Homo sapiens: one gene and its partner. The protein of the gene in region 1 interacts with the protein of each later gene in a pairwise test. Each region holds a gene or a part of one and is shown on either strand. Other genes may lie near its edges. The genes, in order: PKLR and SAV1.

Evidence for each region.
Region 2: the proteins of PKLR (region 1) and SAV1 interact in a two-hybrid assay, tested with the Homo sapiens proteins (one study listed by IntAct).

Annotation. Positions count from the first base shown.
Region 1 is NC_000001.11:155,291,011-155,299,667, reverse strand, and holds part of PKLR (pyruvate kinase PKLR), read left to right. Parts: intron 1-3,911; coding exon 3,912-4,003; intron 4,004-4,099; coding exon 4,100-4,231; intron 4,232-4,365; coding exon 4,366-4,552; intron 4,553-4,915; coding exon 4,916-5,186; intron 5,187-5,282; coding exon 5,283-5,433; coding exon of another isoform or gene 5,434-5,453; intron 5,454-6,077; coding exon 6,078-6,230; intron 6,231-6,324; coding exon 6,325-6,491; intron 6,492-7,730; coding exon 7,731-7,912; intron 7,913-8,657. UniProt on the Homo sapiens protein: Pyruvate kinase that catalyzes the conversion of phosphoenolpyruvate to pyruvate with the synthesis of ATP, and which plays a key role in glycolysis.
Region 2 is NC_000014.9:50,653,264-50,670,027, reverse strand, and holds the start of SAV1 (protein salvador homolog 1), read left to right. Parts: upstream 1-1,721; 5' UTR 1,722-2,060; coding exon 2,061-2,154; intron 2,155-2,527; exon of another isoform or gene 2,528-2,646; intron 2,647-4,408; coding exon 4,409-4,849; intron 4,850-16,764. UniProt on the Homo sapiens protein: Regulator of STK3/MST2 and STK4/MST1 in the Hippo signaling pathway which plays a pivotal role in organ size control and tumor suppression by restricting proliferation and promoting apoptosis.

The DNA of each region.
Region 1 (8,657 bases):
GGGCATGGTGGTGCGTGCCTGCAATCCCAGCTACTCAGGAGGCTGAGGCAGGAGAATCGCTTGAACCCAGGAGGCGGAGACTGTGGTGAGCCGAGATCACACCATTGCATTCCAGCCTGGGCAACAGGAGAAAAACTCCATCTCACAAAAAAAAAAAAAAAAAAAAAAAAAAAAAAGTGGGCTGGGCTCAGTGGCTCATGCCTGTAATCCCAGCACTTTAGGAGGCCAAGGTTGGCAGATCGCTTGAGCCCAGGAGTTTGAGACCAGTCTGGGTAAATGGCAAAACCCATCTCTACAAAAAATACAAAACTTAGTTGAGTGTGGTGGTGCATGCCTGTAGTCCCAGCTACTCAGGAGGCTGAGGTGGGAGGATCACTTAAGCCCAGGAGGTCACGGCTGCAGTGAGTCATGATCGAGCCACTGTACTCCAGCCTAGGTGACAGACGAGACCCTAGAGAGAAAGAGAGAAAGAAAGAAAGAAGGAAAGAAAGAAAGAAAGAGAGAGAGAAAGAAGGAAGGAAGGAAGGAGGGAGGGAGGGAGGGAAGGAAGGAAGGAAAGAAAGCAAGCAGGCAAGAAAGAAAGAAAGAAAAGAAAGAAGGAAGGAAGGAAGGAAGGAAAGAAAGAAAGAAAGAGAAAGAAAGAAAGAAAGAAAGAAAGAAAGAAAGAAAGAAAGAAAGAAAGAAAGAAAGAAAGAAAGAAAGAAAGAAAGAAAGGAGTGAAAGTTGGCCGGGCATGGTGGCTCTTGCCTATAATCCCAGCACTTTGGGAGGCTGAGGCAGGTGGATCACCTGAGGTCAGGGGTCCGAGACCAGCCTGGCTAATGTGGTGAAACTCTGTTTCTACTAAAAATACAAAAAATTAGCCAGGCATGGTGGCATGTGCCTATAATCCCAGCTACTCGGGAGGCTGAGGCAGGGGAATCGCTTGAACCCGGGAGACAGAGATTGCAGTGAGCCAAGATCACGCCATTGCACTCCAGTTTGGGCAACAAGAGCGAAACTCTGTTTGTTTGTTTGTTTGTTTTTAAAAAAAGAAAAAAAAGCTGGGCGCGGTGGCTCACGCCTGTAATCCCAGCACTTTGGGAGGCCGAGGCGGGCGGATCACCTGAGGTCAGGAGTTCGAGACCAGCCTCAACATGGAGAAACCCCGTCTCTACTAAAAATACAAAAAATTATCCGGGCATGGTGGTGCATGCCTGTAATCCCAGCTACTCAGGAGGCTAAGGCAGGAGAATTGCTTGAACCTGGGAGGCGGAGGTTGCGGTGAGCCAAGATCGTGCCATTGCACCCCAGCCTGGGCAACAAGAGCGAAACTCCGTCTCAAAAAAAAAAAAGGCCAGGCGTGGTGTTTCATGCCTGTAATCCCAGCACTTTGGGAGGCCGAGGCAGACTGATCACGAGGTCAAGAGATCGATACCATCCTGGCCAACATGGTGAAACCCCGTCTCTAATAAAAATACAAAAATTAGCTGGGCGTGGTGGCACATGCCTGTAGTCCCAGCTACTCGGAAGGCTGAGGCAGGAGAATCACTTGAACTGGAAGGCAGGGAGCAGAGATCGCACCTCTGTCCTCCAGCCTGGTGACAGAGCGAGATTCCATCTAAAAAAAAAAGAAAAGAAAAGAAAGAAAAAGTGAAAGTTTTAAGTGCTATGGGGAAAGAAATCAAGTGTGATAAGGGCATCAGGAGTACGAGGGTGAAGACAGGTTGCAGCCCTAAATAGGGAGGTCAGTTATTATTGAGTAAATGAGACCAAAGGGAAGACTTGAAGGAGATGAGAGAATTAGCCATGCAGAGACCTGGGGGAAGAGAATTCCAGGAAGAAGGATCAGTCAGTGTCAAGGCCTAAGTCAAGAAGGTTAGAAGAGCTAGAAACCATCAAGGGGGAAGAGCGGCAGACATGAAGAGACTGTGTACGGACAGGAAGATCAGGTGCAGCTTTGTAGGCCATTTTTAGAATTTGAGTTGCGTTTTCCTCCGAGTGAAATGAGAAACTGCTGCAGGGTTTTGAGCAGGGGAATGACAAGCTCTTATTTATGTTTTAATAGAGCCTCCCCTCCCCTGCTGCTGCACTGAAAATAGATGGGGGGTGGGGGGAAGGGTGCCCCTGCAGTATTTCTGGCTCAGACCAGTTGGCGGCAGTGAGGTGGTGAGAAGTGGTCAGATTCTGAATGTATTTTGCAGGTAGAGCTGACAGGATTTGCTAATTGATCGGATATGGGGTATGGAGTGTGGGCGAGAAAGAAAGGAGTCAAAGGTGACAGGTGACTCTGAGGTTTTTGCCATAAGGAACTGGAACGATGCATTAGCCACTGAGCAGGAAAGACTGTGGTGGAAGGGGTTGGGGGGAGAGCAGAAGTTTGCTTGGGACATGTTGAGTCTGAGATGCTTATTAGCCATCCAAATGTGATAGAGGGGGCAGTCAGGTACACAACTCTGGGTTTGGGAGAAAGGTCTGGATTGGAGAGACATTTGGGAGTTGGCTACATATAGATGGTATCTCAAGCCATGAGACTAGTTGAGACCACCAAAGGAGTGTAGGTGAAATGACGGAGAAGAGAACAGGGTATCTAACGTTAAGGGGAGGAACAAGGAAAGGAGACTGGGAAAGAGCAGCTAGTGAGGTAGGAGTCAACCAAGAGAGGGTGCAGCCCTGGAGGTCAGGTGAAGACAGTGTGTCAAAGAAGGATGTATGTTCAGGCTGCTGATGGGCCAATAGAGGAGGACTGAGCATTGAGCATTACATGGAGCAAAAACACAGAGGTTCTTGGTGACCTTGACAAGAACAGATGCAGTGGAGAGATGGAGGCCAACGCCTGAGTGGGGTGGGTTCAAGGGAGAATGGGGGAGGGGAACTAGAGGTAGCAAGTACAGATAACTCTTGCGATGAGTTTTGCTGCAAGTGAGAGCAAATACTGGGACTGAGGGGAAACCAGGAGATTAAGAGAATTTTTTTTTAATGATGAAAGAAATAACAGTAGGTTTACCTGCGGATGGGGATGATCCAGTAAAAAAGGAAAACATGGCTGGGCACGGTGACTCACACCTGTAATCCCAGCATTTTGGGAGGGCGAGGTGGATGGATCACCTGAGGTCAAGAGTTCAAGACCAACCTGGCCAGCATGGTGAAACCCCTTCTCTACTAAAAATACAAAAAAATTAGCCAGGCGTGGTGGTGCACACCTGTAATCCCAGCTACTCAGGAGGCTGAAGCAGGATAATCACTTGAACTGGGGAGGCAGAGGTTGCAGTGAGCTGAGATGGTGCCACTGCACTCCAGCCTGGGCGACAAGAGTGAAACTCCCCCCGTCTCAAAAAAAAAGAAAGAAAAAGAAAAGGAAAACATGGGTGTCACAGAGGACCACAGAATGGCTTAATTTATGTCCTTGAGCAGGTGAGAAGGAGGAGACCTAGTGCACAAGTGGAAAGACAGATAGGGACCGAAGAATGAGCCAACCTGCTCTCGGCTAGCAGCTGCCCCATAGCAGTGCAGGCATGGGATAGAACTCAGCTCTCCTCAGTCCATGAGGCCTCCTAGCTCTAAAAGCCCGCACCCAAACGCCCTCACCTGGCTCCCAGCCCCTGCCCTACACCCCATACCCTGGGGTAGCCGGGCAAGCAGCACTTACATACCCATGCCCATACAGTGCCCATACATGCCCATACAGTGACCTCAGGCCTGGCGGAGGGCACTCCCCTCCGATTTCCACACTGCTGCCTCCCCAAGGGGATGGATGTTGGCTTGAGAGGGAAGGGGAGTCTGTGATCTGTGGGCAGGGGTTGCATCAGGGAATAAAGATCAGGTAACAGGACGCCTGTGGCGTGAGGCGTTCTGAGAATGGTAATGGGTTGGGTTTGGTTGCCTCTCATGTTCTGGGGGAACGTTGTCTGAACGTGAATCTCTGGTTCTAGGGCCAGCATCTCGCTCCGTGGAGCGCCTCAAGGAGATGATCAAGGCCGGGATGAACATTGCGCGACTCAACTTCTCCCACGGCTCCCACGAGGTGCGGGACGGGCCGCCGGGCAGTGGGTGGGGCAGGAGGATGCCTCGAGGTCCTGGCCACCTTCCCCTGAAACCCTCGCTCCGCTCCCTCCCCCAGTACCATGCTGAGTCCATCGCCAACGTCCGGGAGGCGGTGGAGAGCTTTGCAGGTTCCCCACTCAGCTACCGGCCCGTGGCCATCGCCCTGGACACCAAGGGACCGGAGATCCGCACTGGGATCCTGCAGGGGGTGAGCAGTGGGGCTGGGACTCGCTGGGCCAGGGCCGGAAAGGCGGCGCCTGTAGGGTTGGGCCCAGGCGTGGGCAGGGGCGGGTCCCGGACTCCGGGGCTCAGAACTCACATCTCCTCTGGCTCCCTCCTTAGGGTCCAGAGTCGGAAGTGGAGCTGGTGAAGGGCTCCCAGGTGCTGGTGACTGTGGACCCCGCGTTCCGGACGCGGGGGAACGCGAACACCGTGTGGGTGGACTACCCCAATATTGTCCGGGTCGTGCCGGTGGGGGGCCGCATCTACATTGACGACGGGCTCATCTCCCTAGTGGTCCAGAAAATCGGTGCGGACGCGCCTCCCGCCCTGACCACATCCGTGCGCTGGGCACATTCCCTTCTCCTTGGCTCCCCCATCAGCCCTCAGACCGATCACACCTTCCCCTGGCCACGCGTTTTTGCCAGCCCGTCCCAGGAGTCCCCAGCGTGTAGACTCTGCGCTCACCCTGGGTTTGGGCTGGACTATGGGTGGGTCGTTTCTTCCACGGACGTCCATCTGTGCCTCTTCCGGGCGAAGCCCAGAACAAGGGCGGAGAGATGAGGAGGACATGGTTCCTGACCTCTTGCGGGTCCAAGCCCCAGTGTCCTCTCTGCTGCAACTGTGCCCCGTCCTCACCCCTGACCGCAGCTGGCTCTTTCCATGTCCGCAGGCCCAGAGGGACTGGTGACCCAAGTGGAGAACGGCGGCGTCCTGGGCAGCCGGAAGGGCGTGAACTTGCCAGGGGCCCAGGTGGACTTGCCCGGGCTGTCCGAGCAGGACGTCCGAGACCTGCGCTTCGGGGTGGAGCATGGGGTGGACATCGTCTTTGCCTCCTTTGTGCGGAAAGCCAGCGACGTGGCTGCCGTCAGGGCTGCTCTGGGTCCGGAAGGACACGGCATCAAGATCATCAGCAAAATTGAGAACCACGAAGGCGTGAAGAGGTGAGGCTTGGGCTCTGTTCCCCTTCGGCCCTGTCGCTATTCCCCATCACCTTTCTTCTCCTGCCTGCCTCTGCCTTGATTCTCCCAACCTCTCAGGTTTGATGAAATCCTGGAGGTGAGCGACGGCATCATGGTGGCACGGGGGGACCTAGGCATCGAGATCCCAGCAGAGAAGGTTTTCCTGGCTCAGAAGATGATGATTGGGCGCTGCAACTTGGCGGGCAAGCCTGTTGTCTGTGCCACACAGGTCTGGAGTGAGGCCTTGAGGTTCGGCACTCTGTGGGTTTTAGGGACACCTGTGGGTGAATACCCACACTGTAGGGGTTTATTTTGTTTTGTTTTGTTTTTTGAGACGGAGTCTCACTCTGTCATCCAGGCTGGAGTGCAGTGGCGCAATCTCCGCTCACTGCAACCTCCGCCTCTTGGGTTCAAACAATTCTCCTGCCTCAGCCTCCCAAGTAGTGGGGATTACAGGTGACCGCCGCCATGCCAGGCTACTTTTTGTATTTTCAGTAGAGACGGGGTTTCACCATGTTGGCCAGACTGGTCTCGAACTCCTGACCTCAGGTGATCTACTCGCCTCGGCCTCCCAAAGTGCTGGGATTACAGGTGTGAGCCACTGCACCCAGCCCACACTGTAGGTTTATAGCACATTTGGATGAAAAGTGTTTGATCCTCAAACGACAAAGTTAAATATACTTTGACCCCTATTTTCAGGGGTTGTGACCAAACGACAAAGTTAAATATACTTTGACTCCTATTTTCAGGGGTTGTGACTGTGACCCTGGATTTTGGGACACTCTGAGAGTGTGGGTGTCAGAGAAGTAGCTTGGGCAGGGTCCCCAGTCACAGTGTGAGTCCTACAACTTTGACATCCACGCTGTCCCCCAGATGCTGGAGAGCATGATTACCAAGCCCCGGCCAACGAGGGCAGAGACAAGCGATGTCGCCAATGCTGTGCTGGATGGGGCTGACTGCATCATGCTGTCAGGGGAGACTGCCAAGGGCAACTTCCCTGTGGAAGCGGTGAAGATGCAGCATGCGGTAGGAGCTCAGAATGAAAAGCAAATGGGCCAGGGAACCAAATCCCTTCCATACCCCAGTGCCCCTTCCCAGACTAACATTCTGGCACCTGCAGATTGCCCGGGAGGCAGAGGCCGCAGTGTACCACCGGCAGCTGTTTGAGGAGCTACGTCGGGCAGCGCCACTAAGCCGTGATCCCACTGAGGTCACCGCCATTGGTGCTGTGGAGGCTGCCTTCAAGTGCTGTGCTGCTGCCATCATTGTGCTGACCACAACTGGCCGGTGAGGGGGATATTGGGAATGTCCAGATGGAGCTTTGGGTCAGGGGTGGGCTGGGACGGGCCCCAGGCTTGGGTTTAGTCTGGTCACCAGGGGTGAAGAGTGTCCACCTGAGACAAGAGGAGAGGCAGCAATGACAGCTGGAGGCCAGGAGAGACAGAATGCCAGTGAGCTTCTGGGGGCTGGAAGGGGACAGCGGCATCACTGGGCACATTGGCTTCAAGGCCATTTGGGCTTCTGGGGCTCAGAGGCAAGTCCATTCGGCCCACAGAGCCTACCAATACTGAGGTATTACAGAAGGGTCCAGTAGGTCTGAGTTTAAGTCTTTACTCAGAAATGTAGCTCTATTAGCCTGCTGTCTTTCCTCATGAACAGGACAAGGTAATGATTTGTTCTTCATGGGGTTGGCAGGATTAACAGGAGATATTAAGTACTAGATAGTACTTAATATCTATATAGTAAATTAAGCACATAATGGACTTTCTCAAAAGGGTTTTATACTCTTGGGTTTTTGTTTGTTTGTTTTGTTTTGTTTTTCTTTTGAGAACGGCAGCTCGCTCTGTTGCTCAGGCTGGAGTAAAATGGTGCAATCTCAGCTCACCACAACCTTCACCTCCCAAGTTCAAGTGATTCTCCTGCCTCAGCCTTCCGAGTAGCTGGGATTACAGGCGCATGCCACAACGCCCTGCATATTTTTTGTATTTTTAGTAGAGACAGGGTTTCATCATGTTAGCCAGGCTGGTCTCAAACTCCTGACCTCAGGTGATCCACCCTCCTTGGCCTCCCAAAGTGCTGGGATTATAGGCATGAGCCACTGTGCCTGGCCAGCTTTTATATTTCTTAAAGAGATTTCTCCTTATTATCTCATTTGATATATCTGTATTATCTCATATCTTTCTTGTGTGGTAGGGAGGGCAGGCATTCTTTCTTTTTTTTTTCTTAATGCAGAGATGGGGTCTCACTATGTTGCCTAGGCTGGTCTCCAGCTCCTGGGCTCAAACAATTCTCCCATCTCGGCCTCCCAAAGTGCTGGGATTACAGGCATGAGCCACCGCTCCCGGCCTGGGAGGCAGGCATTCTTACACTCATTTTACAGGTGAGAACACCAAGGCCCAGAGAAGTATGATGACTTACCCAGGGTCACACAGCTTGTTAGTGACACCTGGAACTGGAACAAAGATTCTCCTTTCCTCGTTCACCACTTTCTTGCTGTTCTGGGCTGACCTTCTCTGCCTCCTCCAGCTCAGCCCAGCTTCTGTCTCGGTACCGACCTCGGGCAGCAGTCATTGCTGTCACCCGCTCTGCCCAGGCTGCCCGCCAGGTCCACTTATGCCGAGGAGTCTTCCCCTTGCTTTACCGTGAACCTCCAGAAGCCATCTGGGCAGATGATGTAGATCGCCGGGTGCAATTTGGCATTGAAAGTGGTGAGCTACCTAGACCTTCCCTGCCACTCCTACCATTTGTATCAGGAGCCCCCCAACCCAGCTTCCCATACCCACTCAAAGGGCCTTGCCTCTCTCCTGTGGTCCCAGGTTTTCCCTGTGAGAGTCACTAAGACTGAGATATCAGTCTGGCATATCACAAATACCTCTTCCATCAGCATAGCCACACAGGCAGACGGCCGTGCTACTTAGCAACACACTCTGCCCTAGCCCACAGATACTCCTGCACCTTTTTTTTTTTTTGAGAGAGAGTCTTGCTCTGTCGCCAGGCTGGAGTGCAGGGGTACGATCTCGGCTCACTGCAATCTCTGCCTCCTGGGTTCAAGTGATTCTCCCACCTCAGCCTCCTGAGTAGCTGGGACTACAGGCATGCGCCACCACGCCTGGATAATTTTTGTATTTTTAGTAGAGACAGGGTTTCACCATGTTGGCCAGGATGGTCTCAATGTCTTGACCACGTGATCCGCCCGCCTCGGACTCCCAGAGTGCTGGGATTACAGGCGTCAGCCACCGTGCTGGCATCTCTTACACCTTTAATATACTGCAGTGGTCACATTCCCTGCATGCCACCCGTGGGACATACTTCACTGCCTCATTCCCTACAGGATGGCCTTGATGTGGTGAAAGGTGGTGGCTGGTTCTCGTTACAGGGCTGGCCTGGTCCCTCAATGACTAATTTTCTTTCTTTTCTTCTTTTATTATTATTATTATTATTATTATTATTATT
Region 2 (16,764 bases), on another chromosome or scaffold:
AAATATGTCCACTTACCTCTCCACCTATTATTGCCTGGGTCCAAGCCAGCAATAACTTCTGACTGATCTCCCTTTTGCCCTTAGCTCCATTGTCTACTCTCCACACAGCATCCAAAGCAGTCCTATGAAAACATTAACTCAGATCATGTCACTCCTCTGCTCAAAGTAACATTCCTTACAATGGCCTACAAAGCCCTAGGTGCCGTGGCTATTGTTACTCTCTAACTGCATTCCCCATTCGTCTCCCCGTCTTTTCCAGTACATAAACCCTCTTACTGTTCCTCCAATCTGCCAGGAACATGGCCACTTGCAGCGACTTTGCACTTGCTGTTCTTTCTGCCTGGAATATTGTTCCTCCAGTTAGCTGCATGGCCAATTTCCTCACTCTGTCACTTAACTCCAATGTCACCTCCTCATGAGCCTTCTCTGGTCCCTCTATTACCCTCTCAAAAATTGTGAGTCCTCTCTTATTTTCACTTCATCACTTATCACTATCTAACATAGTATGTTTTGCTTATTTTTTGTCATTTTTTTCTCTTTCCCATGACAGTAGGGATTTTTGTCTGTTTTGCTTATTGCTCTATCACAAACGACTAGCGCAGTGGGTAATGAGTATTTCCTGGTTAATGAATGAATTGTGGGAGATCTGCACCAAGGGAACATATGGAGACAGACACTAGATCAAATGTCTCCTTTGTTTGCTCATGGTAAAACATTTGACCATCTTCTTAATCTTACGTGGTAAAAAATTCCATGTCTTTTGTTAATTGTGATATATGTCTTAGATCTCTTGTGAGATGTTTTAGATCTCAGGGAAAGCATTCCTCATTATTAAAGCATTAATTTGGTCACTAGGGGATGAATCCAATCTTATTTTCCAAATGTTATCCTGTACATTTGGCAGTCTTGCTAAGTTATATAGAAGGAAGTAGAGTCTATTATTTTAGATAGAAAATTCCCGGTCCCGACTCGCAGTGGTCAAAGTCTTCAAAATTCTAAGATCATAACACATAACGTCAGGAGGAAATATGTGGCTATTAATCATACTAATGATAGTGATGATGCAATAAAATAATTGTAATATGCTAACACCAATTGTATCTTAAAAAGAGGTACTGGAAATTCCATCTTGCATTCTTCCGTTTTTTCCTGTTATAGAAAAACGCACTCCCTGATACTCAGTAGAGGATCAACTTATTTCTAGTTAATCAGCATGAACGTTTCCAGCAGAATAGATGCTTTGGTGTAGCACTTGCCTGGGAGTCATGGTTAGCATTCCGCATTTTTTAGAGAGCTGAATTCAGCAGCCTAGGAAACATTAGGAAGAACACCTTCAAACAGGGAACAACGTCTTGGGGGGAAAGAGAGTCACTGCCTCCGCTAGGGATCCCGAGGGGGTACAAAAGCAACAACAATAAAAACTCGTGGAGAGTAGGTTCCACGACATGCGCATGCGACGAACTCCCGCACTCAGCGGGGCAGGTTTCGTCCTTCATCTTCTCAGTCGGCAGGACCTGCTTCTCGCTGAGGATGAGTGAGGACAGCCGCAGCTCGGCGGGGACGGCCCGGTAGCCTAGAGCGCCGGCACCCGAGTCCCGCCGCCGGAGCCGCGCCTGGAGCCGCGGTGGGGGAGGGGCAGCGGCGGCCCGCGCTGCGTCGAGCTTCCCAGAATTCCCAGCGGCCGCGGGGAAAGTTTACGGGATGTAGGCGGCGGCGGCGGTAGTGGTAGCGGTTATTCGGCGGCCCGCGGCGGACCATGGCCCTGGCCCTGGCCCGGCGTCGCTGGGCTTTCCTCACGGCGTCCCCGAGCAGCGTCGCAGAGCGGGCCGACTTCCGGGAAGGAACTGACCAGCGACTGAGCGGCGGCCGGCGCGCTTAGCGCCCTGAACATGCGGCAGTCCCTGCGGGCGACCCCGGGCTCCGGACAGGCGGCGGCGGAGGCGGCGGCTCGGGAGGGAAGGAGGCGGCGGCGCCGGCGGAGGTGGCGGCGGAGACGGCCGGCGCCCGGCGCGGAGCCCTAGGGAGGCAGTTCAGCGCGGCCTCGGGCCTCGTCGAGAAGGATGCTGTCCCGAAAGAAAACCAAAAACGAAGTGTCCAAGCCGGCCGAGGTGCAGGGGAAGTACGTGAAGAAGGAGACGTCGCCTCTGCTTCGGAGTGAGTGTCAGGCGGGGCGTGCCCACACCTGGCCCAGGCGGCCAGGTGCTCCGGGGACCCTGGCGGGGGCGCCGGCGGGTCTCCAGGGCTTCTCCTTCGTCCTTGGTCGCGTGAAATACTGGTTTTGAGATTTTCTTGTGTCTGAAGTGGTATTCGTTGATTGAAAGCCCATAAGAGTAAGAAACTTGGGTTAGTCCCCCCCGCGCCTAACCCCCCCAAGAGCACCCCCTAAAAATAACAGACTTCCTCGCCCCACCAGGCAGAGTTGTTGGTTTTGATTACTGGAAGAGAGAGTAGGAAACATTTAAATTGCTTATCACCTAATGCTATAGGAGTAAAAGTAATTAGACAGGGACACTTTTTACTCTTTTAGATGCGTCGAGATGTGCGTCATGTTTGCAAACATTGCGGGTGTCTCTCGACTGTGCTGCAAGTTGTGCGAACTCTGGGGCAGAATTCCTTAGTCCTGCTGCCGGATGCAGACTTGAGAAGGTGAAAAGCATACCGTCGTTCTTGTAGCCGCCACCCAAAGCCTCATCACTCTTACACAGCAGAGCAGAGAGCCAAAAGCCTTTGTATTTGGCTATATTCGTGAGATTCCAAGAAGGCAACTCAAAATAATTTCTATCGTATTAGAGAACCCCCCCCTCGAAAAGTTTTTTTTTTTAATAGGGTAGATCCCACTCCCAATCCCCACCTCCGGTCCCCCGCTGCTTTTCTTCTTAATGTAAGTATTTGATTTTTGAGTTGAATCTCTTGAATTTTTAATTCTTGTGTGTTCAGGACATTTGTGAGGCATGGAGCTGGTATTTTGGTGCTCTTACTGCGCCCTGGGCCCTTTGCTTAAGTTTCCTTCTTGGAAGCTGGTAGTAACCTTGTGACTTAAGTATTACCTCATATTGTAATTGGGAAAGTTAGGTTTCTAGTATTTGCCCAAGATCACACAGATGGGAGAGCATGTTTTTCCATCATAACCACATTGTCAGCCTTCCAGATTTATGGTGGTACTTGCAATACTTTCAACAAAATATATGTCAGTTGAGTACATCAGTAACTCGAAACTTGATTTTTAAGTTGTTTTTTTTTTTTTTTAACAACTTGATTTTCAGTCACACATGCAGTTAGGTTTCTGGCTGTTTTTAAGTGATAGCTTGCTGTTTGCTGCAAATAAAGTTTATCAGACATTACTTGAAATCGTGAATTATGTTTGTCACACTTTTTATTATACTTTAAGTTCTGGGGTACATGTGTAGAACGTGCAGTTTTGTTAATGTTTGTCACAGTTAAGCAAATAACTTTTGATCTACTTTGTTTTGTTGTCGTTACATCAAGTGTTGAGCCTTATTTATTCAGATATTTGTTTCTGTCCAGTGTTAGTTTCTGAAGCTTATTAATATGAGTGTCTCCAATATTGTTTACTTGATGAATAATAAGAGGGTCTGCATATTCAGGTTTTTGTCTTGTTTTAAAGGTATTTGCTTTCTAACTGGGAATGTCTTAAGCTGTTTTCAAGTTTCGTGTTTAAAAGTACTGTATCCTAAAAGCTGTTGTTCTATTATCTACTATTTTGAATTATAATTACATAGTTTCAGGCTTGGTTTTTTGAGCCACTTCTACATTTGTGTGCTTCTTTGAAATGAGAGCTTTTTATTTTCAATTTTCATACATAAATTTTTGGCTTTCTAGCTTTTGATTACTGTGCTAGTGCTAGGTAATTCCAAGAGAAGAAAGAGCTACTAATTTTTTAATTTTTAAAGGAATCCACTTTTACATATTTGGGAGTAGCATTAAGTTCTATTTTTGAAATTGTGTTTGCTTCAAGAAGGATTTTTGGCAGTTTCTAAAATGAAGTGAGAACAACAAAATAAACTACTTAACTAGAAACTATCAATTTGTTATATTATTTCCTATTTTTATACATTAATTCATGAGCATTTCATTAATGTGTAGTTCATAGATAAGATTATTGATATTTTATCATATTATGTATGGTAGTATGCAGAATACATTTTATTCTAGCTGAGCTTTTACGCATAGTCCATTAATGCAAGTTATATAAATTCATTTGATTGGGAAAATATTAATCTTCCTCAATTTAAAATGCCCAAGTACCATCCTAAACCAAAATTTAAAATTGTGTTTTCTTAAGTTGACTGACATTTTGATTTTGGGGTGGTAGACATAAATGAACAAATTTCGAAAACTTTTGTTACTTAATGATGAAAGGGTAATTTTATCCTTTGTTTTATTGTAGATCTTATGCCTTCATTCATCCGGCATGGTCCAACAATTCCAAGACGAACTGATATCTGTCTTCCAGATTCAAGCCCTAATGCCTTTTCAACTTCTGGAGATGTAGTTTCAAGAAACCAGAGTTTCCTTAGAACTCCAATTCAAAGAACACCTCATGAAATAATGAGAAGAGAAAGCAACAGATTATCTGCACCTTCTTATCTTGCCAGAAGTCTAGCAGATGTCCCTAGAGAGTATGGTTCTTCTCAGTCATTTGTAACGGAAGTTAGTTTTGCTGTTGAAAATGGAGACTCTGGTTCCCGATATTATTATTCAGACAATTTTTTTGATGGTCAGAGAAAGCGGCCACTTGGAGATCGTGCACATGAAGACTACAGATATTATGAATACAACCATGATCTCTTCCAAAGAATGCCACAGAATCAGGGGAGGCATGCTTCAGGTAGCTTAACATTATAAATAATATAGTAGTTTATATTTATTGACATGTCAATTAAAAAGATGTTCTTTTCTAGATTTTCTTGGGACACGAACAAATACTACTAGCGAAATGTTTTTCCACTTTGCTCATCCTGCTTAAGCCTGTGTGCAAATAGTTGTTAATCTACACTGAATGGAAGAGTCCTTGTGACCATTTATTTTATTAACTCATGTTATGTAAACTTGGTATTTATCTCAAGGCTGTCTAGACTCTTAATGCTGTGACCCTTGAAAACCTAGAGAATTTAATGTCTCCAGTTGGGCTGAATTTAGGTTTAGGTTTGGTAGAATAATGGGAAGGGTAAGTCTTCAGAGACACTTGACGGAGTCCTCAGAGACACTTGACAAACTTGGGAAAGGAAAGAAGAGTAGGAACAACTGGGCATGCTCAGTGATACCCTGAGCAACCACATTACTTCGCTAGATCCTGCCCTTTTTCTCAACAAAAAGTAGTTCAAGAATTATTTCCTGAGTTGATCAAAAAGACTTATTGTCATATGGTTAATTATGTGTTGAGCATGTCTTTTTATTATTTTTGTAACAGACAAAAAAAATTACCATATAATTTAAGAAAAGAAGGTACTTTCCATATCTCCTGAGTTGGAGATACTTCTGAAAGGAGCAGAAGAGATGGGAGAAATGTACAATTCTACTTTATTCCTGAAGTCCTGGTTTTACCAGATAAAATGAAGTGAGATGAAAATTAAACTTTCTTGTCTGATTTTTTTTTTCTACCAAGTTATAGACTTTAAATTTTGGCAGGATAAAAATAAAATGTGAGACAGATTTACTTTTTGGCTCACATAACTTCAAATAAGGCGACTTAAAAATGGTTTGGAGCATTAGTATTTTGACTGTAGAAAAAATTTATTCATTTAATATTAACTGTTTATGTGTCTAGCGTTTTCCTTGGGTCTGTTGGTCTCTGCTTTCTGGTACCTTATTTGTCTAGTACCTTATTTGTGGAAACAAAACCAATCTATACACAATGGTCACAGAAAAATTGTTATACTTTGTGATACTAACTGTAAGTGCAACAGGGAATCAGAAGAGAGATGAGTATAGGCTGGAATACTTAAAGAGATGATTCATGGAAGAGGTAGGACTTGGAGTGGGCCTTGAGCTTGGCCTTTAGATTAACAAGGGCCAGAAGAAGGACATTTTACGTGGAAAATTGGGAATAGCACAATGAAAACAGAGTAGGCATGGTTTAAATATAAGGAACAGTGTAGTTCTGCCTGGTTTGAAGAAATAAGATGTAAGGTTGAGTGGAGATTTGTGGTTCAACAATAGGCTTAGATTTGAGTCAAGTGGAAGCTCTTGCACATTTCGGAAAGACAAGTGATTTTATGAAAGCAGTGTTTAAAGATTAGTTTTGTACTAGAATTAAGGGTAGATTCCTAGAGAAAAGAGGATTGCAGGTACCAGTGGGTACCAGTGGTAATAGGAAAACGCAAATCTAGGATGCTTTTAAAGGAAAAATGAGAATTAGAGTTTAGGAGAAAGCAGATCACTGAAGTTTTAAAAATAATGTGGAATAGTTGGTAAGAACAACTTATTTTATGAAAGCTGACATCAGAGTCTCACTGGAACATTGTAGAGGAGAGGTTTTCTAGGCATGTGGAAATGCAGTAAGAGGCATGGGTAAAAGCACCTTTTAGTTTTTAAGGAATTAGGTTAAAGAATTAGCTGCATGCTTGAGTGTTTATTTTGGTTATTTCTGATATGCAGTTCTGAACCTCAGGAATAATTTGTTATCTAACTAAAATAGTAAGTTTTAAAAATAAAGCTCATTTATATTTTCTTCTAGAATAATAACTGCTTATTACAGGAAATTTGCAAAATGCAGAAACGTAAAGGCAAAGTACCTGTCCACCAGAGATCCTCTTAGTATGTTATTTTCTTCATCTTTTTCCATGCCAAATTCTTTTTTTACATGGATGTGATTATATAATATTTTGTACAGTTTTCTGTTCTTTTTACTTGAATGATTTTCTTCATGTTGTATACTTTTTATGAGTGGTTTTAATGACTGCGTAATCTTCCATTTGGTGCATATTCAGTGGTTAATGAGGACTTGACCTATACTTCAGAAATTTGGAAAGAGGAGAAGTGGGACACGCCCACATTAATGGGACTTGGCCACTAACGGGGTTTGAAGGACAAAGGAGAGGGAAGAGTCAGATAGGATTAGCACAGCACATGACTGCCTAAGAGATGCTCACAAAAATAAATGGCTGAATGAGTGAATGAACCCAGCGGTTTTAAATCTGGAGGCTTAAGACAGTTTTTGGTAGCTGAGGGAGAACAGAAATAGCTATGTTTACTGTTAATATAGAATATGTGTTATTCTTTGCGTTCACCTTTCCCACCTATATTGTAGACGTCACTGATAGCTTGTAATACTTTTCTACCTGAGGTTTAAGTATGTAAATATGAGGAATTAATAACAAGTTAAACTCTTGTTTTGAAAATCTAATTTGCCAAATATAATTGAGGAAATACTATAAGAACTAAATCTCTACTGATCCTCTCTTAGGAGCAATTTGAGATAATTTTTCTAAGTTTAAAGACAGACTTTAAAGCAACTTTCCAGTCACAACTTCAAAATAAAGTACAAGTTAATTGCATACGTTTTCAGATTCAAGTATGTCATTAAAAAAATAAGATTTCAGGCTGGGCACGGTGGCTCACGCCTGTAATCCCAGCACTTTGGGAGGCCAAGGAGGGTGGATCACGAGGTCAGGAGATTGAGGCCATCCTGGCTAACACGGTGAAACCCTGTCTCTACTAAAAATAAAAAAATTAGCCGGGCGTGGTGGCAGGCGCCTGTAGTCCCAGCTACTTGGGAGGCTGAGGCAGGAGAATGGTGTGAACCCGGGAGGCGGAGCTTGCAGTGAGCTGAGATTGCGCCACTGCACTCCAGCCTGGGCAACAGAGTGAGACTCCGTCTCAAAATAAATAAATAAATAAATAAATAACAAGATTTCAAAACACTGATGAAAGAAATTGAAGAGCACAAAAACAAATGGAAAGACATCCCATGCTCATGGGTCAGAAGAATTAACATCATTAAAATGACCATGTTGCTCAAAGTAATCTACAGATTGAATGCAATCCCTATTAAAATACCAGTCATTTTTCACAGAAATAAAACAATCCTAAAATTTCCACAGAACCAACAAGGAGCCCAAATACCCAAAGTAATCCTGAGCAAACCGAACAAAGCTAGAAGCATCACACTACCTGTCTTCGAAATAAGGCTATAGTAACCACATACAAGGTTATAGTAACCACAAATAAGGCTATAGTAACCACAATAATATGGTATTGGTATAGAAAGACACATAGACCAATGGAACAAAAATAGGTAATGCAGAAATAAATCCACATATTTACAGCCAACTGATTTTTTTACAAAAGCACCAAGAACGTGCATTGGGAAAAGGACACTTTCTTCAATAAACGATGCTGGGAAAATTGGATATCCACATGCAGAAGAATGAAATCTGACCCTTGTCTCACCATATGCAAATTCAACTTGAGATGGATTAAAGACTTAAGACCTGAAATTATAAAAGTACTAGAAGAAAATGTAGGGGAAACACTTCAGGACATCGATCTAACAAAGATTTTATGGCTAAGACCTCAAAAGCACAGGCAACAAAAACAAATAGACATATGGGACTATATTAAACCAAAAGGCGTCTGCACAGTAAAGGAAACAACAGAATGAAGAGACAACATATTGAATAGGAGAAAGTGTTTGCAAAAGATTCATCCAGCAAGGGACTAATATCCAGAATATGCAAGGAAGCCAACAGTAAGAAAAACAACCCCATTAAAAAGTGGGCAAAGGACATGAATAGACGTTTCTCAAAAGAAGACATACAAATGGCCAAAAGGTATGTGAAAAAATGTGCAACATCACTAATCGTCAAGGAAATGTAAGTGAAAACCACAGTGAGGTGTCTTACCCCAGTCAGAATGGCTATTGTTAAAAAGACAAAAAAATATACTACTGGTGAGAGTGTGAAGAAAAGGCAACTGTTACAGACTGTTGGTGGGAATGTTACAATAATTAGGACAGGCACTATGAAAAACAGTTTGGAAATTTCTCAGAAAACCGAAAACAGAACTACCATATGATCCGGCAGTTCCACTGCTGGGTATCTATCTAAAGGAAAAGAAATCAGTATATCAAAGAAATACCTGCACTCCCATGTTTATCATGTCATTTGCAGCAGCTTGAATGGAACTGGAGGTCATTATATTAAGGGAAATCAGGCACAGAAAGAGAAGTGTCTCATGTTCTTACTCACATGTGGGAGCGAAACACATTGATTTCATGGAGATAGAATGATAGCAGAGGTTGGGAAGGATGGGAGGGGAGGTAAAGAGAGGTAGGTTAATGGGTCCAAACATAAAGTTAGATGGAATAAGTTCTAAGGTTTGATAGCAGAGTAGGGTAACTACAGTTAACATTTTGAAATAGCTAAAAGAGAGGACTTGAAATGTTCCCAACACATAGAAATGATAAATACTCACGGTGATGGATACCCTAAATACCCTGACTTGATTATTTCATACTCTTTGCATGTATCACAATATCACATGTACCCCATAAACATGTGCAAATAATTATGTATCCAAAAAATGCTATAAAACAATGTTACCACCTGACTGGGCTCTTGTCTGCTATCCGAATAGAGCAGAACACTGAGACAGCAGATACTGTAAAGAAGAAAGAGTTTAATTATTGCAAGGCAGCTGAGTAAGGAGGATGGGAAATGTTTCTCAGAGTCATCACCGCCAAGACTGGAGAAGCTAAGATATTTAAAGATGATTTGGCAGGCAGGGGGCTAGGGGATGGGTGCTGGTGATTGGACTGGTATGAGATCATAGGGTTATCAATGCTGTCTTCATGTGCTGAATCAGTTGCTGGGAAATTGGGGAGTCACAAGACCAAGTCAGTTCCTTGGTTGAGTTCATGGAACACTGGTCCATTTGGTGTCAGTTGGTCCACTTGTAAGCAAAGTCTGAAAAATATCTCGAAGACCAGTCTTAGGTTTTACAGTAGTGTTTGTGACTGCCAGTTACTATGGAAAGAAAGCTGGGAAAAAATGGCAGGTTACTGTTTAAACCTATAGCTTAGCAGAAGAGTTTGCAGGAGGTGAGATCACCAGTGATCAAAGTGGCCTGGCCTGTTTGGCCAGTCCAAATTCTGGAAACTATCAAGGGGGTCTGTGTGATCTAGGATCATTGTTTTCTTGTTCTTCTCTTCTATTTTCTTTTTTGAGACAGGATCTTGCTCTGTTGCCCGGGCTGTAGTGCAGTAGCATGATCACAGCTCACTGCAGCCTCGACCTCGGGCTCAAGCAATCCTCCCACCTCAGCCTCCTGAGTAGCTGGGACTACAGGCATGCACCACCACACCTGGCTAATTTTTTGTATTTTTAGTAGAGACTGAATTTCAGTGTTGCCCAGGCTGGTCAAACTCCCAAGCTCAAGCAATCTGCCTGCCTTGGCCTCCCAAAGTGCTGGGATTACAGGCATGTGCCGCAGCACCCAGTCTGGATTATTGTTCTTTAAAAGAAACAGGTTTGTTAATCTTATGGGCAGCCTGCCCAGGGGCTGCCACAGGAAGACAATTATTAGTGACTGCCATTTGTTGAAATGACTTTGCAAGCAGTCATACATGGAGGTGGAAAAAGAGAAGGAAAATATTTTATCAAAATTCGGGCCCCTACCGTAATTTTAATCTTGAGGGTGTTTTTAATTTTATGAGGGAGGCTTCAGCAGGAGTCAGCAAGCTACACCCATAGGCCAGATAGACTTGCCTCCTGCAATACAGTAGTTTTATTGGAACACACATGCACTGAAATAAGATTTGATTTCATGGAATAGCCAAGACCTTGTTTTAATGAGACAGTAGACTTCTGCCTTCGAAGTCTCATCCCAGGCTCTTTTATATCAGATTGCGTTAGGTTTAAAGAAGGTTGCAGGTAGTTGAAGAATCTCAGGTAATAAGGTATCTCTCCCAACCAAAAAAAAAAAAAAAAAAAAATTCTTTACAGCAGTTGATACACTGCTTGAGAGCTTGAGAGACTTCATTTGATAAGATTAATTTTTATCAGGGCAATATAGATTTAATGTTTTACCTTGTAGAAAAAAGTAGTACTTTTTTTGAAGGAATCTCTAAAGTTGCAGGGAAAGATTAATAACCAATTACATGCCAAACAGAAAAGCCTAATAACTGCCTCTTCCACAAGGGAAAAATCTGAATATGAGACAGTAGCTGAAAGTTTCTTGAATTCACCTTGAGAAGACTTAAAACATATTTTTAGGATTTATGCTGAATAAGGTTCAAGGAATTTGAATGAATAGAAAGGAGAAAGTAAGTTTGTAGGAGGATAGGATAGGTTTGTGCGATAGATCTATTTTCAGAAACATTGAATTTTGATTGTCATAAGCATAAAAAGGTTGGAAAATTTGTTTTGTAATGACTTAATGGCAATAGTAATTCCTGTCAATTAGTTATTAGATTTTCAGGAAACACCTTGTGTCAAGGGTTAAATTCAGCTTATTGTATTTAGTAGAAGCACAAAAACAAGTTGTATAATCTCAGAAAGTTTTAGAGCCTAGAAAGTTCTACGTTTAGCTGTAGAACTTTCAGATTAGAAAATTTGACCTTTAATGTTCTTGGCCGCATACCAGTCACGCACTTACTGTATGTTCCAAAGAAAGGAATCCTGCTGTTAACAGGAAGTCTTTAGTTGGAATACTAAAGGCAGACTGAATTCCTTTGTTTTGCGCTTAAATTTTAGTTCTGTCTCGAAAACATTTTTAAACGTTTAAAGATGACTAAAGAAATCAGGATACAAAAATCAGACTGAAAAGTGTGAGCTTTATCAAGAAATACTGGATTTGCAGTTACTCGGGTAATGTGTAAATATTTGTGTAACCAGAATCTTTTGAGGAGGGGTTGATAATCTTTAGAGACACCACCTTTTCTGTATTTATTTTGCAGAGGAAGAGAGAAAGCATTTGGTTGAGTTTAATACTTAGATCTTTTTATCAACATCTTGATTATAACACATGCTAATAATGTGTAGCATCCATTACTAGGGACCCTGTGGAACTGTGTTAGAGCTCTAGATCCATTTTATTCTCTGTAGCCACTACAAAATTTGGAAACCGGCCTATTTGAGTCTTATTCATAATGGTAGATCTCATAAATATCTGCCTGGTTGTATGAGATTAAGTTTTTTGGCACATCTACTGATAGCTGAGAGAGAAAATAATACTTTATCTGTGTCTTCGACTAAGTCATATGTTTAGTGTGTGAATGTTTTACTTTGTATTAATAGAAGGTGTTTGTGCAGTTAATTCCTGCAAATAGAAGCTGTTTTGAGGATTAATTGTGAATCCAGTTTATTACTTTCAAGGACTACTTGAAATTACAGAAAGGTAATTTTGTTCTTGTCACTCAAAAACTGAAGTTACCATTTTTTCCCACTGATTTGGATCAAAATTGGTGGCTTGCTTTTTCTTTTACTAGTGGTAGTCATATTTTTCTTTAAAGAATAAATAACAATTGATCTTTTGTTGCTGAGATTACATGGTTAGTAACAGGTTTGCATTTGACCTTATACCACTTGTTGTGTGACCACTGGTAAAATAATTCACTTGAACCTGTTTTCTCATCTGTAAATTGGTGGTAATAGTACTACCTCCTAGAGCAGTTTTGGCTATGAAATAAGACATATGGAAAGAGCTGGGGATAGAATACACATCCATAACTGTTTGCACATGTCCTTTGTAAGAGTGAGTATTTCCCAGCACTTTGGGAGGCCGAGGCAGGTGGATCACAAGGTCAGGAGTTCAAGACCAGCCTGACCAACATGGTGAAACCCCGTCTCTACTAAAAATACAAAAATTAGCTGGGCATGGTGGTGTGTGCCTGTAATCCCAGCTACTCAGGAGTCTGAGGCAGGAGAATCGCTTGAACCAGGGAACCCGCGGTGTGGAGGGTGCAGTGAGCCAAGATTGTGCCACTGCCCTCCAGCATGGGCGACAGCGTGAGACTCCGTCTCAAAAAAAAAAAAAAAAAAAAGTGAGTGTTTTGTGTTCTGTGCTTTTCCCACATACTTGGGATGTTAGTTATTGAAGTTTGAGCTTTCTGGCTGAACTCATACTGGAGGAATGATTTATTAGAGCTTGACATAGCTTTTTTATTTTTTAATCTTCTGGATCTGTTTTGGTAATGCTTTATGCTTTAGAACAGTGGTTTGCATTGTTTTGTACTGTACATTTATCTCAATAGATTTTGTAAAATTATCCCAAATAATAATTTGAAAAAATATATCACACATTGTGCTTTCAGAAAGTACAGCTGGGGCCGGGCACGGTGGCTCACGCCTGTAATCCCAGCACTTTGGGAGGCTGAGACGGGCGGATCATGAGGTCAGGAGATCGAGACCATCCTGGCTAACACAGTGAAACCCCGTCTCTACTAAAAATACAAAAAATTAGCCAGGTGTGGTGGCGGGTGCCTGTAGTCCCAGCTACTCAGGAGGCTGAGGCAGGAGAATGGCATGAACCCAGGAGGCAGAGCTTGCAGTGAGCGGAGATCGCGCCACCGCACTCCAACCTGGGCGACAAGAGTGAGACTCCATCTCAAAAAAAAAAAAAAAAAAATACAGTTGGGGTATGTTTTGAAATTATTAATAGATATCTCTAAGAAAGTTTAGGAATCATGGCTTTACAGGGCATTGGAGTTTTTTAATAGCGTTAGTAAAGCTGATGTGCCTATTTGCAACTTTTTGGGTACTTCATGGCTCCTTTATCAAATTGTCAGGCTTTAAAAATGAGAGTATTTACAGAGAGGTCTTTGTGCTTCCTTTAAATATGAATCCCAAATTTATAGTCAGATATGGCTTTTGGTACCTAATGTTGTTTAAATGTAAGAGTACATGTGGTTCTAGATTTAGGCAAGTTCAGTACATATATGGAAGTATGGGTTTTCTTAATAGATGAAATTGCCACAAACTTTTAATACGCTCTAAACCTGTATAGTTTTTGTTTTTGTTTTTGAGACGGAGTTTCACTTTTGTTGCCCAGGCTGGAGTGCAATGGCACGATCTTGGCTCACCACAACCTCTGCCTCCTGGGTTCAAGTGATTCTTCTGCCTCATCCTCTCTAGTAGCTGGAATTACAGGCATATGCCACCATGCCCGGCTAAGTTTGTATTTTTAGTAGAGATGGGGTTTCTCCATGTTGGTCAGGCTGGTCGTGAACTCCTGACCTCAGGTGATCCACCCACCTCGGCCCCCCAGTGCTGGGATCACAGGCATGAGCCACCACACCTGGCCCTTGTCTTGTTTTTAATTACTATAAAGGCTTTTGTTTTTAGGCAGGGTATAGTGGCTCACGCCTGGAATCCTAGCACTTTGGGAGGCCAAGACAGATGGATCACCTAAGGTCAGGAGTTGGAGACCAGCCTGACCAACACGGTGAAACCCCATCTCTACTAAAAATACAAAAAGTAGCCAGGCATGGTGGCAGGTTCCTGTAATCTCACCTACTCGGGAGGCTGAGGCAGGAGAATCGCTTGAACCTGAGAGGTGGAGGTTGCAGTGAGCCGAGATTGCATCACTGACTTTAGCCTGGGGGACGAGGCTAGACTCTGTCTCAAAAAAAAAAAAAAAGGCAGCTTTTGTTTTTAATAATGCAGTATTTAGAATTTTGTTTCTATTATATATTTCCTGAGGGAAGCTCTGTTAGCCAAAATATTATGGCTTTTATAAGTAACTCATATAAATACACTGAATTGACTATACATTAGAAAAAATTGTTACATTGTTATGCTTGGTTTTGGCTGTAAAGCATTTTTAACATAATGAACATATTAGAATGTAAAGTAATTTTGTGTTTCTACGATGTGATATTAAAGTCATTTGCTGTGTACATGTGTTTCATACATTGGCTTCTTTTCTGTTTAAATATTTTCTCTTTAAGTACTGAAGTTGCTTAAACTATACATATTAAACTTTCAATTGCAGTTTAATAGAAGCCTAAGGTCAGTTTCACCAAAAGGCTTGTTTTGTTCTGTTTTATTGTCACCATCTTTAAAAAATTATATGTTAGCTTTCTTTTGAAAGGGTACCGAACAAGGGTGATCTACTTGTTCTTGCATCTGTTTTTGTTCTTGCATCCTTTTTGCCAGAATACTGCATAGATAATGTTGTGTACTTTCTATTGCATAGGTTCCAGTGACATATAATGACTGATTTGTCTGTGATGTTAAGATGCAGCCATGGGTACAGATGTCAGCTTAATTCATCCATCATCATGAAGTTCTCCATAAGCCTTTTATCTATTATTGGTTTTTGGCAGCCATTAATGATCATTGGCTAGCACTATTACAGGCATACCTCATTTTATTGTGCTTTGCTCTATTGTGTTTCGCAGATACTGTGTTTTTTACAAATTGAAGGTTTGTGGCAGTCCAACAGCACGTGCGCATTTCATGTCTCTGTGTCACATCTTGGTAATTCTTGCAATATTTCAAACTTTTTTCATTTCTGCCTGTTATGGTGATCTGTGATCAGTGATTGCTCATGTTACTATTGTAATTGTTTTGGGACATCACAAGGAATTGCACTTGTGTGCAAACTAAACTAAAATAAGAAGTGGAGCCTGATGATGTGACTGCATTGCTGCTGGTCTCATGATAAAACTTGAACAGATGAGTTGCTTTTTATGGATGAGCAAAGAAAGTGGTTTCTTGAGATAGAATATACTCCTGGTGAAGAAGCTGTAAATATTGTTGAAATGACTAATGATTTAGGATATTAAATAAATTTAATTGATAAAGTAGCAGTGGAATTTGAGAGGATTGAGGCCAGTTTGAAAGAAATGCTACTGTGGGTAAAATGCTGTCAAACAGCATCACATGCTACAGAAAAATCTTTCATGAAAGGTAAAGTCCATTGATGGAGCAAACTTCATTGTTGTTTTTAAGAAATTGCCACAGCTATCCCAGCCTTCAAACACCACCAGCCTGATTAGTCAGCAGCCATCAATATGGAGACGGGACCCTCCACTAGCAAAAAGATGCTGTGAACTCACTAAAGGCTCAGATAATCATTAGCATTTTTGTAGCAATACAATTTTTTTTATTAAGACCTGTACTTTTTTTAAAGATATAATGCTATTGCACACTTAATAGACTGCAATATATTGTAAAATATAACTTTTTTTTTTTTTTGAGATGGAGTCTCACTCTGTTGCCAGGTTGGAGTGCAGTGGCATGATCTCGGCTCACTGCCACCCCCACTTCCCAGGTTCAAGCAATTCTGCTGCCTCAGCCTCCCGAGTAGCTGGGACTACAAGTATGCGCCACCAGGCCCAGCTAATTTTTGTATTTTTAGTAGAGACAGGGTTTCACCATGTTGGCCAGGATGGTCTCGATCTCTTGACCTCGTGATACACCTGCCTCGGCCTCCCAAAGTGCTGGGATTACAGGTGTGAGCCACCGTGTCCGGCCGTAAAGATAACTTTAAGGTTCACTGGGAAACAAACAAATTCACGTAACTCGCTTTATTGCAATATTCACTTTATTGCAGTAATCTGGAACCAAACCTGAAATATCTCCAAAGTATGTCTAAGTGTTGCAAATTTTGATACTTGAATTCTGTCATTTCTTCTTTATTAGTTGGAATATTATAATTAAGGACTTTATCAATTATTTGGTTGCTGTTCATATAGGAAAGAAGGGTTGAATGCTAGATCTTTTCCTTTGTTTGCTATTTCAGAATGATGAATTGATACCCTAGCCACCTACAAAAGTAACCATGAACTCATGGATTTTT